Regions from separate parts of the Homo sapiens genome. Here region 2 is linked to region 1. Evidence: fine-mapped expression QTL. Tissue or cell type: gastroesophageal junction. Region 1 holds a variant in brackets; the other region holds the start of a gene. All regions are shown on one strand. Distances are between the middles of the regions.

Evidence for each region. PIP is the estimated chance that this variant, and not a neighbour inherited with it, causes the effect.
Region 2: VCF2 starts here. The variant in region 1 is fine-mapped to the expression of VCF2 in gastroesophageal junction (GTEx, PIP 0.98).

The regions. Positions count from the first base shown.
Region 1 is chrX:55,133,446-55,141,599 of GRCh38, reverse strand. It overlaps the pseudogene LOC100421179. Among named protein-coding and RNA genes, the nearest start is that of VCF2, 24 kb to the left of the region's middle. The variant T/G (reference allele first, on the strand shown) is at 4,170.
Region 2 is chrX:55,156,967-55,165,120 of GRCh38, reverse strand. VCF2 (VCP nuclear cofactor family member 2) reads left to right here and starts at 3,936. Exons shown (of 3, transcript NM_001166701.4): 1 at 3,936-3,984; 2 at 5,893-5,992. The coding sequence starts at 3,965. RefSeq lists enhancers at 3,147-3,647, 3,648-4,148, 3,974-4,273.

The DNA of each region.
Region 1 (8,154 bases):
ATCTTCTGTGGTTTCTCTGAGCTCCCTGAGTTGCCCCAAATGCATTTCTTTAGATGGTGTATTAGTTTGTTCTTGCACTAATGTAAAGAAATACCCAAGACTGGCCGGGCACGGTGGCTCACGCCTGTAATCCCAGCACTTTGGGAGGCCGAGGCGGGCGGATCACGAGGTCAGGAGATTGAGACCATCCTGGCTAACACAGTGAAACCCCGTCTCTACTAAAAAATACAAAAAAATTAGCCAGGCATGGTGGCGGGCGCCTGGGGCAGGAGAATGGTGTGAACCCAGGAGGCGGAGCTTGCAGTGAGCCGAGATTGCACCACTGCACTCCAGCCTGGGTGACAGAGCAAGACTCCATCTCAAAAAAAAAAGAAAAGAAAAGAAATACCCAAAACTGGGTAATTTATAAAGGAAAGAGGTTTAATTGACTCACAGTTCTGCATGGCTGGGGAGGCCTCAGGAAACTTACAATCATGGAAGAAGGGGAATGGCAGAAAGGGAATGGCAGAAGGGGAAGCAGACACCTTCTCCACAAAGCAGCAGGAGGGAATGTGATTGTGTGAAGGAGGAAATGTCAAACACTCATAAAACCATCAGATCTCATAATTCATTCACTATCATGAGAACAGCAGGAGGGAATATGAGTGTGTGAAGGAGGAAATGTCAAACACTCATAAAACCATCAGATCTCATAATTCATTCACTATCATGAGAACAGCATGAGGGAAACTGCCCCCATGATCCAATCACCTCCCACCGGGTCCCTCTCTCAACACATGGGGATTATTGGGATTACAGTTAAAGGTGAGATTTGGGTGGGGATAAAACCAAACCATATCTTTCCGCCCTGGCCCCTCCCAAATCTCATGTCCTCACATTTCTTTTTTTTTTTTTCTTTTTCTTTTTCTTTTTTTTTTTTTCTTGTTATGAGACAGTCTCACTCTGTCACCCGGCCTGGAGTGCAGTGGCACAATCTCGGCTCACTGCAACCTCCACCTCCCGGGTTAAAGCAAGTCTCCTGCCTCAGTCTCCTCAGTAGCTGAGACTACAGGCACCCAACACCACACCTGGCTCATTTTTGTATTTTTAGTAGAGACAGGGTTTTACCATGTTGGCCAGACTGGTCTCAAACTCCTAACCTCAAGTGATCTGCCTGCCTTGGCTGGGATTACAGGCGTGAGTCACCACTCCTGTCCTCACATTTCAAAACACAATCTTTTGTTCCCAGCAGTCCCCCAAAGTCCTAACTCATTTCAGCATTAACCCAAAAGTCCAAAGTTTCATCTGAGACAAGGCAAGTCCCTTCCACCTAGGAGCCTGTAAAATTAAAAGCAAGTTAGTTATTTCCAAGATACAATGGGAGCACAGGCATTGAATAAATACTTCCATTCTGAGTGGGAGAAATTGGCCAAAACAAAGGGGCTACAGGCCCCATGCAAGTCTAAAATCCAGTGAGGCAGTCATTAAATCTTAAAGTTCCAAAATAATCTCCCTTGACTCCATGTCTCACATCCAGGGCACACCGATGCAAAGGATGGGCTCCCATGGCCTTGGGCAGCTCTGCCCCTGTGGCTTTGCAGGATACAGCCCCCTGCCCTGGCTGCTTTCACAGCTGGCATTGAGTGTCTGTGGCTTTTCCAGGTGTACTATGCAAGCTGTCAGTACATCTACCATTGTGGGGTCTGGAAGATGGTGACTCTCTTCTCATAGCTCCACTAGTCAGTGCCCCAGTGGGGACTCTGTGTGGGGGCTCCAGCCCCTCATTTAGCCTTCGCACTGCCCCAGCAGAGGTCCTCCATGAGGGCTTCACCCCTGCAGCAAACTTCTCCCTGGACATCCAGGCATTTCCATACATCCTCTGAAATCTAGGTGGAGGTTCCCAAACCACAATTCTGGACTTCCATGCACCTGCAGGCCCAACACCATGTGGAAGCCACCAAGGCTTGGGGCTTGCACCCTCTGAAGCAACAGCCTGAGATGTACCTTGGCCCCTTGTAGCCACAACTGGAGCTGGAGTAGCTAGGACACAGGGCACCAAGTTCTGAGGCTGCACAGAGCAGGGGGACCCTGGGACTGGCCCATGAAGCCATTTTTCCCTGCTAGGCCTTCAGGCCTGTGATGGGAGGTGCTGCTGCCAAGATGTCTGAAATGCCCTGGAGACATTTTCCCCGTTGTCTTGGCAATTAACATTTGGTTCCTCATTACTTATGCAAACTTCTGCAGCTGGCTTGAATTTCTCCCCAGAAAATGGTTTTTAATTTTCTATCACATCGTCAGGCTGCAAATTTTCCAAACATTTAGGCTCTGCTTCCCTTTTAAACATAAGTTCCAATTTCATATCAACTCTCTCAAGTTCAAAGTTCCACAGATCTCTAGGGCAGGAGCAACATGCCACCAGCCTCTTTGCTAAAGCATAGCAAGATTGACCTTTGCTCCAGTTCCCATTGAGTTCCTCATCTCCATCTGAGACTACTTCAGCCTGGACTTCATTGTCCAAATCATTATGAGAATTTTGGTCAAAAGCATTCAACAAGTCTCTAGGAAGTTCCAAACTTTCCCACATCTTTCTGTCTTCTCTCTGAGCCCTCCAAACTGTTCCAGCCTCTGCCTGTTATGCAGTTCCAAAGTTGCTTCCACATTTTCAGGTATCTTGATAACAGGGCCCCACTCTCCGCAGTACCAATTCCTCTTTTAGTCCATTCTCACACTGCTATAAAGAAGTACCTGAGACTGGGTAATTTATAAAGGAAAGAGGTTTAATTGACTCACAGTTCCACATGGCTGAGTAGGCCTCATGGAACTTACAGTCGTGACAGAAGAGGAAGCAGGCATCTTCTTCATAAGGCAACAGGAGAGTGTGAGTGTGTGAAGGAGGAAATGTCAAACACTTATAAAACCATCAGATCTCGTGAGAACCCACTCACTATTATGAGAACATCATGGGGGGACCACTCCCATGATCAAATCACCTCCCACTGGGTCCCTCCCTTAACATGGGGATTATGAGGATTACAATTCAAGATGAGATTTGGGTGGGGACACAGCCAAACCGTTTCAGATGGGAACACTGTTTCCCCAGTGATTGACAGCATCTGACCATGGATAGAACTATGTGTACTTAAATATGGTTGTGGACATCTTGTCATCCTTGCATAATCTCTTCAATGCTTTGCAGCTCTGCCCACCTGCAGTACAAGATGTGCTTGATGAATGCTAGGGAGTGATTCTGGAGCAGCATTTCCTGCACAGTCCCAGTCTCTATAAATCTGTCAATGGCAGAGTTTTTAACCTGCATAGTGAGGACCTTCTTGGGTTGGGAGGAGTCATCAGAGGGAAAGTAAGCCAGAAAGTTATCCAGTTTAACCTTCAACTTAAAATCTAGGGTTGAAGGGAAGCTCTGCTCACAAGGACTAACAGCTGAGCATTAGTGGAGAGGCCACTATTGGCAAATAGACCCTGCCTTGTCGTATTGGCCCAGGTAGCATTAGAAGGCAGGTCTTGAGGATTCTCAAACTGGAGGAAGAAAGATATGCTTCACCTGCTTATTTGGATCTGTTTATTTGAAGTAGAATTGCTGGCCCTGATGTCAAGAACCTGCAAAGATAAAACCTGGAGCTCTTTGAATAGAGCTACTGGAGAATGAGTCTTGGCGTCCTTTCGTCAGAACCTGAAAGAGTATGAGAGGAATATTCTCAGATAATTCTTTCAAGGATATCTCAAGTCAATCTTTTTCCTAGCAGCCAGAATTCCCCCATTCCACACTGAGAAGGATAGAATGGTTTTGGTAGAGAAAAAAGAGGCCAATAGTAATGGATGTGGGCTTATTCCCAAACAACTAAGTGAGCCCTATTCTCTTTCAGCTCAAGAGTATAGATTCAGGTTAATTTCTAAGACTGATTTTTCCAGAACACAGCTCTTGGAGTAAACAAATTTGCTGAGGACAAACAACACCTCAAGAATGGAGCTGCACTGGGCCTTAAGGCCCTAGGAAGCCCCATTCACATTGCATTCTATGTGAACGGTGCCTTCTGGAGTTGTGTAACACAGAGACTCTTTTAAGATCCCTGGCACTTCTATTATCTAACACAATGACAACTTTGTCAATATTCAGCTTTTGAGAGAGGGGCATATTGTTATAAGTAAGGGTATTGAGGAAACAGATATCGGAA[T/G]GTGGCATCCTAGTTTAAGGGCAAAAGAAGCCTGGAATTAGACTATGCTCACTGCATCTCTCTCACTAAATGATTACATGGCTTTGTCATCCCATTCTATTTGTTTTCCTCTTGCCAATTCCTTTTTCTTCTCAGTCAATATAGCCAAATCCTCCATCTGATCTTTGAATTTTGGAGTTCTCCAGGGCACAGTCCTTGGTCCTCTTTTCTTCTCATCAGGGATGTCATTCAGTTTCACGGCCCCAAGTAATATTCCTATACTGAGAGAATCCAAATGTGTATTGCCAAGCCTGAGCTCTCACCTCTCTCTTCCAGACCCATAAAATCCCCTAGCCCGTTCCTCTTCTCTATTTGAGGGTCTCAGTCCTCTCAAACTTGACATTTTCACATGTAATCTTATCATCTTATCCTTCTGACTATACAGTTTCCTCATTAACTCTGGCACCTCTTTCCCACACCCTCCACAGCCATCACTAAATCCTCTCCTCAGAACTAAACCTAAAAGTGGTTCAGTTAGCTTCATCTTCTTCACTGCTAACAATAATCCAATCCATGATCATTTCTCACGTGGATTAAGGTGAGAGCTTTGTTGTGACCTCCCAACATCTACTGCAGCCCCACTGTGATCCACTATCACATGAATGTAAAATTAAACTTTGACTTTTAAATTAAAATTTGAGTTAAAATTGTAGTTTTTATTATGTTACTCTCCTTCTCCAAACCCTACAATGGACTGTGTAATTAAGGACAACTGTGAAAATATTTGTTTAATTGTGATAGATGCTGCAAAATACAAGAATAAGATGTCTGGGCATATATAGTGAGGGATCTCTAAGGGCCTGGATGACTAGGGAAGGCTACCCATTCCTTTTAGGACAGTGTGCAAGACCCTTACTCTAGCCCACAAAGCTTTGCTTGATATAGCCAAGTTCAATCTCTATTTCTCCAGGCTCATCTCATGTCACTATTTCTCTCAATGCACAATTCTCAACCTCATTGACTCTTTCACATCCTCAAATATACCAACATCTTTCTTGACTCAGGCCTTTAAACACGCCCTTCCTTTTGCCTGGAATTTCCTCCCTTGTCTTATTCACCTGTATAACTCCTATTCATCCTTCAAGTTGAAGTTCAAATGTCACTTCCACAGGAAAGCCTTCTCGGACCATCTAGGCTTGGTGATGTCTCTCTGTTATATGTTTCTAAGGCAGATTATAATTTTGTTTTATGGCAATCACCAATATTGATATAGATACTTATTTATGAGTGAAACATCTGCCTCCCCTCCAGACTAAAACCTCTGTGAAAAAGGATCCATATGTGTCTGGTTCATTGCTATATTTCCAGAACACACAATAAATACCGATTGAATGAACCAGAAAAGAAAGGTGAGTTAGGGCTCCCACCCGTAGGATGGCCTCCAGAATGGATCAGAGCAACTCACAACAGGGATGGATCTGGAAGCAGGCCTTTTGGCAAAGTGTTGAAAAGAGGTTGATTCAAAGTGGTGGCCACCAATTAATCTAGTGAACAAAGCTGAGTCTTGATACCTAAGCCTATAGGAGGAAATTATCTTCATCTAACAATTTCCCTAGGTAAGCTAAAAACAGAAAGTGCTCTGGATCCTTCGTTCCCCTTCAGTTTACCCTTTCCTGTCCCATGTTTAAGGAGCTAAGTCTGAAGGCAGGCCAGACTCATTATGGGGCTGGTTGGGAATTAATTGAATGACTGCTTTTCTGGCCAACGGTAAGTCTGATATGACTTAGCAAGGAGGACTCTCTTCTATCAGCATGATAGAAGATAGGGCCTGAACTGCAACTTGGTCAGAGACATGGCTCAGCATTTGAGAAGTAACTTGCTTTCATTCAAAATTGCTCCCCTATAGAGGACCAATAAAAGGATGTGCTGGATGACAATGGTAGGGTAGGGTATGATGAAGGTCATGGGAGAAAGACCTTGGTATGTCAGAAAAGACACATACCACAGAACTATTGTGCTAAAGAGTGACTGTCATCAGAAATCTTTAAGCTACACCCACTCCTGAAAGTGGATGGCTCCTGCCACCTGCTGGATGAGCATATGGAATGCGAGTGGAAAGGAAAGGATCATAATGAACTAGAACATAGAAAGAGCAGGCTGTGAAAGTTGGCAGCACAACAGGTATGGAGATAATGAGAAGAAACCATCCAGTTTCAGATTGTTTTCAAGAATTCCTGATTGTAACTTGATCTGGTGGCCCAGCTATGCTATGGAACTTGTTTCATGGCTGTATGGAAGGGCAAAGAATGATGTCAGAAGAAAGAAAAGCAATGCCATTTCTCTGCATCTTTGGCGAGCAATTTGGAGCTATTTTTGTGTGATGACTTTGCATTAAGTTTCCTAATTCTCAGTGTGGAAGGTCAGTATGATTGAATGAGAGCTGACCAGCAGTGCTATAAAATTCCACTATTTATTTTCTACAGCTTGATAGCACCTTCCTTCACTCCCATGGAGAAGCAAGCTTAATTTTGTCATCTCACATGCTAGTTAACAAATATGGTAGATGCCTTTTCTCAGTTTTTTTTCTTTCAGTTCTCAACAGCATGGAGCCCTATTCACCACCACTCCTGGAAGCTTTCTCCTTCCCTTCCCTTCTCTGATCTTCTGCCTTACTACTTTTTCTCTTGTCTCTTTGAGTGCACAATGGAATTCTTTCCAAGCTGTTCCTCTTTGCCACACCCCCACTGCAATGGGCTGAATGTTTGTGTCCCCTCAAAATTCATGTATTGAAACTCTGATCCCAATGTGATGGTATTAGGAGGTGGGGCCTTTAGGAAGTGCTTAGGTCATGAGAGTAGAGCCCTCATGAACAAAATTAAAGCCCTTATAAGAAGTCAGAGAGCTATCCACCACCTAGGAGTACAGCAAGAAGCCAGCAGTCTGCAAGTCTAAGGGGGGCCTCATAGAACCCTGATCTCAGACTTACAGCCTCCAGAACTGTGAGAAATATGTTTCTATTGTTTATAAGCCACCAGCCTATGGTACTTTGTTATAGCAGGCAGCCAAACTAAGACACACACCCTATCAAATATTTCTTGAATTCAGTACTTAAGCCTCTACTCATTTTAGTCTATCCTCTCTGCCTCAGGATTCTCTTTCCTCAAACATTACTTCTAAGCACATGACTACTAGATGTCTATTGTTGTCCTCACCACTGCCTTAAATTCCAGATATGCATTCCCTTCTCCATGCTGAACATTTGCTCCAGTAAGTTTCTCTGTCAACTCATTATCAGTATAACTAAATCAAAATTCATCAAGACTACCCAAAATGTGCTTACATTCCTTCATATCTCAATGCATCCCACTACCATGTCCCTAGATATTCTAGGCCCTCCTTGACCTTCCAATTGTTCCTTGGATGTCTCTTCCCTATAATTTTTCAGTTACTACTTCCAGGTCTCAAATTTAGATCACAATCATCTCACGTTTAGATTAATCCAATAATATTCTAGGGGTGGTTTTCTTTCTCTGTCTCCTCTTGTCTTTCCTTTCTTTGCTGCCAGATTAACCTGATGCAGATGCCTTTTGGGTCATATTTTTGGTCAGTTCTAAAAGGGCCCCACTACTTTATATCTTACTTGGTGGTCAAGGCTTTCCTGGCCCCAGTGAACCCCTTCAGCTGTATTTCCCATTACCCTCTTTCTTCCAGAAACACTTACATCAAAACATGAACTGAAAGATATCAGGCTTCCCTTTATTTTGCAAATTGCACAAAGACTTTTATACCATAAATGTGACACCACTGACACTGCATAATCTTGCCTCAATCCATCCATTCATTTGTCTGTCCATCTCTCTGTCTATGGATGCATGAAACTATGATTCCATCCACATACCTATCCAAGAAATGTTTGGAGAGTGTCTATAGGCCATGAACTAAACCAAAGTGCACACCCTATTAAAAGCTCCAATATCATCCTGTGAGGCAGGGCAAGGGATCCCCT
Region 2 (8,154 bases), 24 kb before region 1:
GCCCCCATGATTCAATCACCTCCCACCGAGTCCCTTCCACAGGGTGGGGACACCACCAAACCATATCAGAAGATCTCAATCATCTCCATTTACAGCCTTTCAAAAGTTATTCTGGCTGTTGTTTCTGAGCAATTCAAAACTTCCCTGGGGCCCAATGAATCCATGTATTCTCCTGAAGGGCATCTTTTACCTGGATTAACAGCACAGCTGAGAACCAACACAGACCGGTTAGTTTAGGAAGAAAAAGAAAAGAAAAATACAGTAGACCAACATTTCCCTCCCCCATGATATTGTTCTCTTTTCACTTTTTCCATTCAATGTAGAGAAGGATATTTGAATCCCAAAATTTCTAAGCTGAGAGACCTCTGAAACATTATCCTATACAGCCATTTTCAAAATATTTTTAGCAACAGAACACTTTTGTGAAATGAAATTTCATCTAAAAGCCTACTGCAGAAAATGGGGTGATAAAGTAATATTTTTCATATAAATGTATCACTTTAGTTTCAAGTTATCTTTCTATAAAGGCTGTCAGTAAATTTGATTGAGGTTCTTTTGAGGAACCTAACAAATTATTCTGTGGATTTCTGCATAACACTTCAGTTCCATATTAACTTCTACATCTGATTTTTTGGTGTTTTTACTGTTACCGTTTCACGGCTGCAAGAAGATCTTGATTTTCACAATATATTTATCGCTAATCTGTATCTTGGGAAAAAGAGAACCTCACTTTAAAAATAAACAAGTTACAAGTAAAGGATGGAAGAAGATATACCCTGCAAACATGAACCACATAAAAACTCAAGGTGTCAAATTAATACCTCACAAAGCACTCTTTATAGTGGAGATTATTACAAGGGACAAAATCGGACATTACATAATAATCATGAGATCTGGTCATTTAAAAGTGTGTGGCGCCTCCCTCCCCTCCTCCAACTCTCTCTCTCTCTTGCTCCTGCTTTTGCCACGTGAAGTGCTTGCTCCTGCTTCACCTTTTACCATGAGCAAAAGCTTCCTGAGGCCTCCCCAGAAGCTGTTACCAGAAAGGGGTCCCGATCCAGATCCCAAGAGAGGGTTCCTGGATCTCGCCCAAGAAAGAATTCAAGGTGAGTCCACAGTGCAAAGCAAAAGCAAATTTATTAAGAAAGTAAAGTGGTGAAAGTACAGCTACTCTACAGACAGAGTAGGATATTCCCAAAAGTAAGAAAAGGAATGCATCCACCCTAGGTACAATACTCGTTTATATACAGGATAAAAAAGATTATGGGGAGATGTGCTCTGCTACAAGGGTTTGTGATAAAGGATTAATTTTCTTAATTACTATATCTTGCAAGAATTGATATTATGATCTTTAAAGCAAAATTAGGAATGCTTCTGTTCTCAAGATATTGGGATATCACGACACTCCTAAGTCTGGGTCTGTTCAGTAAAAACATCTAGAGGCTAGAAATACCTAATTTTCTGAGAATGCAGCCAAGCAAATCCCAGCCTCCTTTTTCCTAGATTTTTCCTATTTTTTCAAGATAGAATTGCTCTGGTTCGAACGCCTCTGACAAATCCGGCGCCATGCTTTCTGTACAGCCTGCAGAACCATGAGCTAATTCAAACCTCTTTTCTTTATAAATTACCCAGACTCCAGGTATTTCTTTACAGCAATGCAAGATGGCCTAATACATGGTCTGCATTGCTTAGGAGTCTCATGTTGATTGCAGTGTCCTCAGTGGTTTCTGAAGGAAGGCTAACTTATCTCCCAAATCCTGCTGGTGATGCTGATTTGCTCACGTATGTCTGTGGCTGGTGTAACTTGCATTTTTGTCTCTCTCATCTTGGTCAGAATCTGGTACTCCCTGGCTGACTCAGCCTCAGCCCATGTGTGCTAGCTTCTGCAGACCCCTCTGAATCTGGGCTTCATCCTCCCTTCAGCCCCTGGCCAGGGTTGTCCACTCCACAGCCTCAGCTGCAAGGTAACCTAGTCCTTATCTGGCTTAAGCTTGCCCCATGGTAGCACCCCTGGCTCTTGAATCAGCCACTTTCCATACCCTCCAACCCCTCCACCTTCCTCAGAGAATGCAGCCCCTTGGGGTCTCACCTACAACACAGCAATAACCAAGATCAGCTCTTGAAAGCAAAATCCCTCATTTCTAACCATCTATTTGCCCACTTTGTAGACGATAGCATGATCCGATAGACATGGAGAACATGGTGATTCAAGTAAAAGGAATGATCATTACAAAAGCTTGTTCCTTGAGAATGTGGAAGGGCATGGGATCCAAGTGAAGGGTGTTAAGGAAAAAAAATTATTCATGGCATTTGTTAAAGAACGGTAAGGCAGACTTCATTCAGGACCATCAAGATAGGTGTAGGGACCACTGCTATGGGGTTTTGCAGTGAAGGGAGAGAAACTGGGTTCCACTCCAAATACAACAACGAAAAGTGGAAATTTATAGCCAAGGAGCAGGGTGGGGAGCAATGGACGGAAAATTACTAAGAGGAAACACCACGGGTAAGGGGGTATTGTGGCTAAATTGAACTAACAGGATTGTTGGTGAAGGTGGGCCAGGGTGACTAGACATCACCTGGGGGATGAGGAACCTAACTGAGATATTGATGATGGGAAATTCTAACTAAACTGACTTAGCAGGATTCTTGTTAAAATTGCACAATGCAGCGACAAACATGGCAGTCTAAAAGTCCCCTGTCCAGGGCTGTCTACTCCACAGCCTCGGCTGCAGGGTCACCTAGCCCCTAGCTGGGTTAGGCTTCCTTTATGGCATGATCTTTAGTTCTTGAATCAGCCACTTTCCACATCTTCCCTTCCATCCTCAGGGAATGCAGCCCCCTGTGAGATCACCTACTTAACAGCAAGAACCAGGATCAGCCTAAACTCTAGCACTCCCTTTGCCAACTTTTTAGATAATAAATACAGATAGAGGAACATGATAATTCAGGAGAAAGCATAACTGCAAAGGATGATCCCTTAAGAAGGTGGAAGGCATAGGATCCAGGTGAAGGGCCTGGTCTCAAGTAGGATCCTGTCTCTTCCTCCAGGGAAGCAGCCAAGATTATAAGTGCAGGTCTACTGCTGTTGGGAAGTGGTGTGAATTCTTCTCTGATTGCTTCTATTTTCTCAAGGGAATATCAGTGAATATCATGAGAAAATTGGGTGCTGGTGCTTGTGGAGGGATCTTGTAAGTAGACTAGACAGAGAAGGTACACTTGTGGAGGGTGTACATTGTTTGTCTACTTGGCGGCGGGGGGACTGCCAGGAGAGTAGGGAGGAGAGAGTTAATAGCTTTGGGTAAGCTGGCTAAGGAAGGTGAATGGTGAGGAACGCGGTTGTGGTTAGTGGAGAGGAGGCCTCCTTGAGGCTAAAGGCTGTGGATGCTGGGGCACTGGAAGAGGTAGCTGTTAGGACACGATCGGGTGCTGCCCGTTATGAGAATGGGGGATGCAAGAAATGGACATCGTGGAGGGGCGCGGTCTTTCCTGAGGCCCAGGGCATGACCGCGGGCAGAAGAGACTTAAGTGGGGGGAAGGAGACCCCCCCGAGGACGGAGAGGCGCCGGCCACGGCCTGGTCAGCCCCGGGGGCGCTGAGGTCGCCGAGGAGGATCAGCGGTGTGAGGGCTGCGAGGACAGGGCGTGTGCCACGTGAGAAGCGTGTTCAGAGGCTGGCTGGGTGGGAGGAGAATGTCCATGGGATTGGCACAGGTCTCGAACATGGGGCGGCTCGGGCAGTCGCGCAGCAGAGCCTGACCCTCAGCGGATCGTCCCTCAGGCGTCAGCTCCCAACTGCAGGGAAGGGAGCCTGCGGCGGACCCAGAGGAAACAGGAGCCGACCTCCCCGGGCTCCGATGCGCAGGCCCAGAGCCCGTCAATCCTTGGCCAGCCCCGCCCTCCGGGCTGCGTTTTTCCGGCGGCGCAGGAACTTCCTGCGCGGTTGCTATGGTTCCGAGGGCAGGACTATGGGAGGCTGCCCTGTACGGTAAGTTCGTCGGGGCCTTTCCGGCCGGTACCAGTCCGAGCTCTGGTCCCCACGGTCATCACGCTTTGCTTTCTCAGCCAAGATCTCGGGGCTCAGGGCGGAAACGCAGCGGATATGTATTTTCTTCCGGGGTTGGTGGCGCTCGGCTCTCATGACCTGCAGGTGACAGTGTTGGCCGGTGGCGCGGCCCTGCTTGCCTCGTGCCCCGCCCTTCGTGCTTGAAAAAAAATCCCGCGAAGCCTTCTCCGAAAGAACATGCTGGTTCTTTGGTTGTCAGTGCCTTACAAGCCCTGGAGGCGGGGGTGAGGTGGGGATGTGGTCCCTCGCGAAAACTCAGTCAGTGGACAATAGCATTCTGTTTTTCAAATTGGCATTTCCTCGGTGAGGCTGCTAGGTACCCTAGCAACTGGTATTTCTGTTTCTCTGATTGGTTTTGTCATCTTTCTCCACGTGTTACTGGGGTTCTATGGACCTTTATCAATGTATTCTTTCATTACAAACGTCTCTGAATCTCATGGTAGAAAACTTGGTTAGACTGTTAAAGCGTAATAAAGGAAACCAATCTTATCCACAGTCCGATCACCCAGCCGTGACCATTAATCATATTCTGTGATAAATTTCCTTAGATGTTTTTCATTCGTAAAGTTGCATTTTAAAAAATGAGATTAACATTGTTTCATGAACATTCCGCTTTTTAAACTCAGCTTCACACTTTGAAAAATCATTTTCATAGTATTACTCTGTTTTAAAAACAATGCAAACGTATTGTAAGCTGTTGAAAGTTTCAGTAAAACTTGAGCGCAAAATACTCAAATACTCAAAATACCATGATCAAAGACAAACATCACCATGCTCCCTAATGAAGGCAGAGCTGTGGCATGTGTTTGTTTCACTCTTTTATCCTGGCACCTGGAGGAGTGCCTAGCACTTAGTGGATGCTCAATAAACATTGTGAAATAAAATAATATTTACACCCGGTCATTTTTTCTTTATATATAATCAATCATTTCATAATGGAGTGTAATATAGGAGCAGTTTTCTACGTGATTTTTTATTTGGCATTTTGTACTCAGTACTCAGTCTCCTAGAGTCTCCTAGTACTCAGTCTCCTAGAGATGAGAATTGATTAAAGAGTAATGAAATTATAAAAATGAGTAAACTCAGCCATTCTTAGGAGTACCAAAAACTCAAAAGTAAGTCTCTAAGCAAATGTCTGGTTAATAATAGAGTGCTGTGAAAACTATGTCAAACGCTGCAATCTGATTACTTATTGACAAGGAACTTGAAACTGAAGATGTAATCTTACCAATCATTGAAAACAATTTTGAGAAAAGAATGTTTCAAGGAAGTAATCAGCCACAATCTCATGGTGACAATCTAGTGGAGTAACTATGTCATAATATTAGCTGGTATAGCAACAGTAAGTGCCTAACCACATTCAGCATACAAGAAATATCTCTTCAGTGTCGCTACACCACTGGCATAAGAACTTAAGAGTAGACACTGGCAGACACACATGTCTTACGATCTTATTGAAGGAGTTAAAAATCACTTACCCTGGAATTGTAACTTCATGGAGTCAAAACAATGAAACTAATTAGGTAGATTTTGAAAACTTAGCTATTAAATTCCTCATATTCTTTATTTTCAAGGATCATTTAAGGTTATGAAAATTATTTCTAGAAATGAAATGCACAGCTTGGCTTTACTTAGAGTTCTTGTATTACATTTTTTTATCTTCATGCCTGGTAATGGAGTACTTATATGACTTTTATATCTTGGGATAGCAGATAGTGACATTTTTTCAGACAAGTTCTCATATATGTATGTTGTCACGGCTTTACAATTTAAGCATCCAAAAGATCAGTTGTTTCATGTAACAACTCTCTCTTTACAATTTATTTTCAGGAAAAGAAGAAGAAATGGCAGTAAAGAGGGCAACCATCATTCCACCCAGCCCAAAAGGAATAAGAGAAACCCTATCTTTCAGGATTCTCAAGATACAGAGGTAGCAAGTATGGTCAGATTGCCTCTATTTCATTCATTGCCTACACTAAATTATCCAATTTGTGCTCCATAATGAAAAGAAATGTATTATTCCAAGAAACCTTCATAAAAGTTTTCTTGCTTGATTACAGTGGCTTTTGAGCTGGAGCTTTAAATTATGATATAGTATCTCACAGAAAATGGAAAAGAAGCACAGAAAAACTTTGCTAAACATAATCAGGAGGAATTAGCCCCTGTAATTTTGTCCCCTCATATGAGCAGGGAATAGTAGTCTTACTTCCCTTCTTTTTATATGGAAAACATATTTTCTAGTACATAGTGATATGTTATTAGCTGGAAGGCAAGTCTTGCTTTCTCAGTGAAAAAAAGTGAAAAATTTGGGGCAGTCTCATGATTTTTGCAAAACTTTAATGGTGCTGGAAAAAGAGTTTGAAGTTTTTAATTTTTTATTGATATAGAATAGTTGTACATATTTTGGGGGTACATGTGATATTTTGATACCTGTATATAATGTGTAATGACCAAATCAGGGTAATTGGGCTACCCATCACCTCAAACATACATCTTTTCTTTGTGTTGGGAACTTATAAATCTTCTCTTCTATTTTGAAATATACAATAAATTATTGTTAACTGTAATTTTCCTACTGTACTGTTGAATTCTATAACTTATTCCTTCTATCTAACTGTATTTTATACCCCTTAGCCAACTTCTTTTCATCCCCCCTTCCTCTCTTCTAAACCTCTAGTAACCACCATTCTAAGGAGCTTGAATTTTAACTTCAAGGTGCTTCACTTTAATAACTTGTATTCATTAGCATAATATAGCTTTAATTGAGATATAATTACTAGTGGAGTGTTAAAGGAACCTCATAAAGTCTTTCTGAGTTAATCCTCTTAGTTAATAACTAAGTATGGCTCACCTTGCCCTCTTTTGAGCAAGATGAGAAAAGATTATCAATCCAGGTCCTCTTCTTGGTACCTACCTATACACAGGTATGATTATCCAAGATTGTGGGCAGCTACTTGGATGGGTAAAACATAACTAGATTTAACTTATATAATTTGTTCTCTTAGGTGCTGGGGGATTTTTGTTGGATATGTTTGCACATATAGGAATATTTTCTTTCAACCATACATCTTACAAATTATACCACCACTTTCCCTGTAAAAACCCTAGTACATAGGTATAAGACTTACAGAAAGTACAAACACAAAGAGCCGAACATTTCTGTACAAGTGTGTCTAACTTGCCAGGAACATTCATTTTACCTTTCAGATTACTGAGTAGTACAAGAAATTAAGAGTGGAATATTATGTAGATATACACACAAGTGGCTTATCTGGAGCAGATCTCTGCCTTTTTCTCTTCCCTACTGTATAGAGTAGGAAAAGATTTTGTGCCCTAATGCTACAATTCCAAGGGGGCAGCAGAAATAAGACAAATGAGAGAAAAACAGAACTAGGAGGCCCCAAATACATTTAAAATTAGAGGTCTATGAATCCTGTTATTTTTCAGCTGATAGGAAATCTCCCCTTGTCAGGTTATCATTTTAAGTAATATCAATTCAGATGACAACTGGGGCATTTTTGTTTTTTTGAGACAGTCTCACTGGGTCACCCAGGCTGGAGGTGCAGTGGCACGATCTCGGCTCACTGCACCCCCACCTCCCGGGTTCAAGCGATTCTGGTGCTTCAGCCTCCGGAATAGCTGGGATTACAGGCATGCACCACCATGGCCGGCTAGTTTTCGTATTTTTAGTAGAGGTGGGGTTTTTCCATGTTGGCCGGGCTGTTCTCGAACTCCTGGCCTCAAGTGATCCGCCCGCCTCGGCCTCCCAAAGTGCTGGGATTACAGGCATCAGCCACCACGCCCCGGCTTTGGTGAAATTTTTTGAAGAACATTTTCTCTTAGGTTCTTAGTAGTTTGGAGTCATTCTCATCACGTTTGATCACATAAATTCTAAGAGACAGAACTACTTTGGGAAACATTTTTGGGGATGAAATCGTTGTTGAACAATGTAATGGTCATCAGATGTGGTTTTAAACCCTATGGCAAAATGGGAACCTTCTGAAATTAGCTTCTACTTAAAGATACATTCAAAATGGAGGAACAAGCTTTTTCAAAGATGGCCTAATCTATTTTGTACATTTTAAGAAGCCG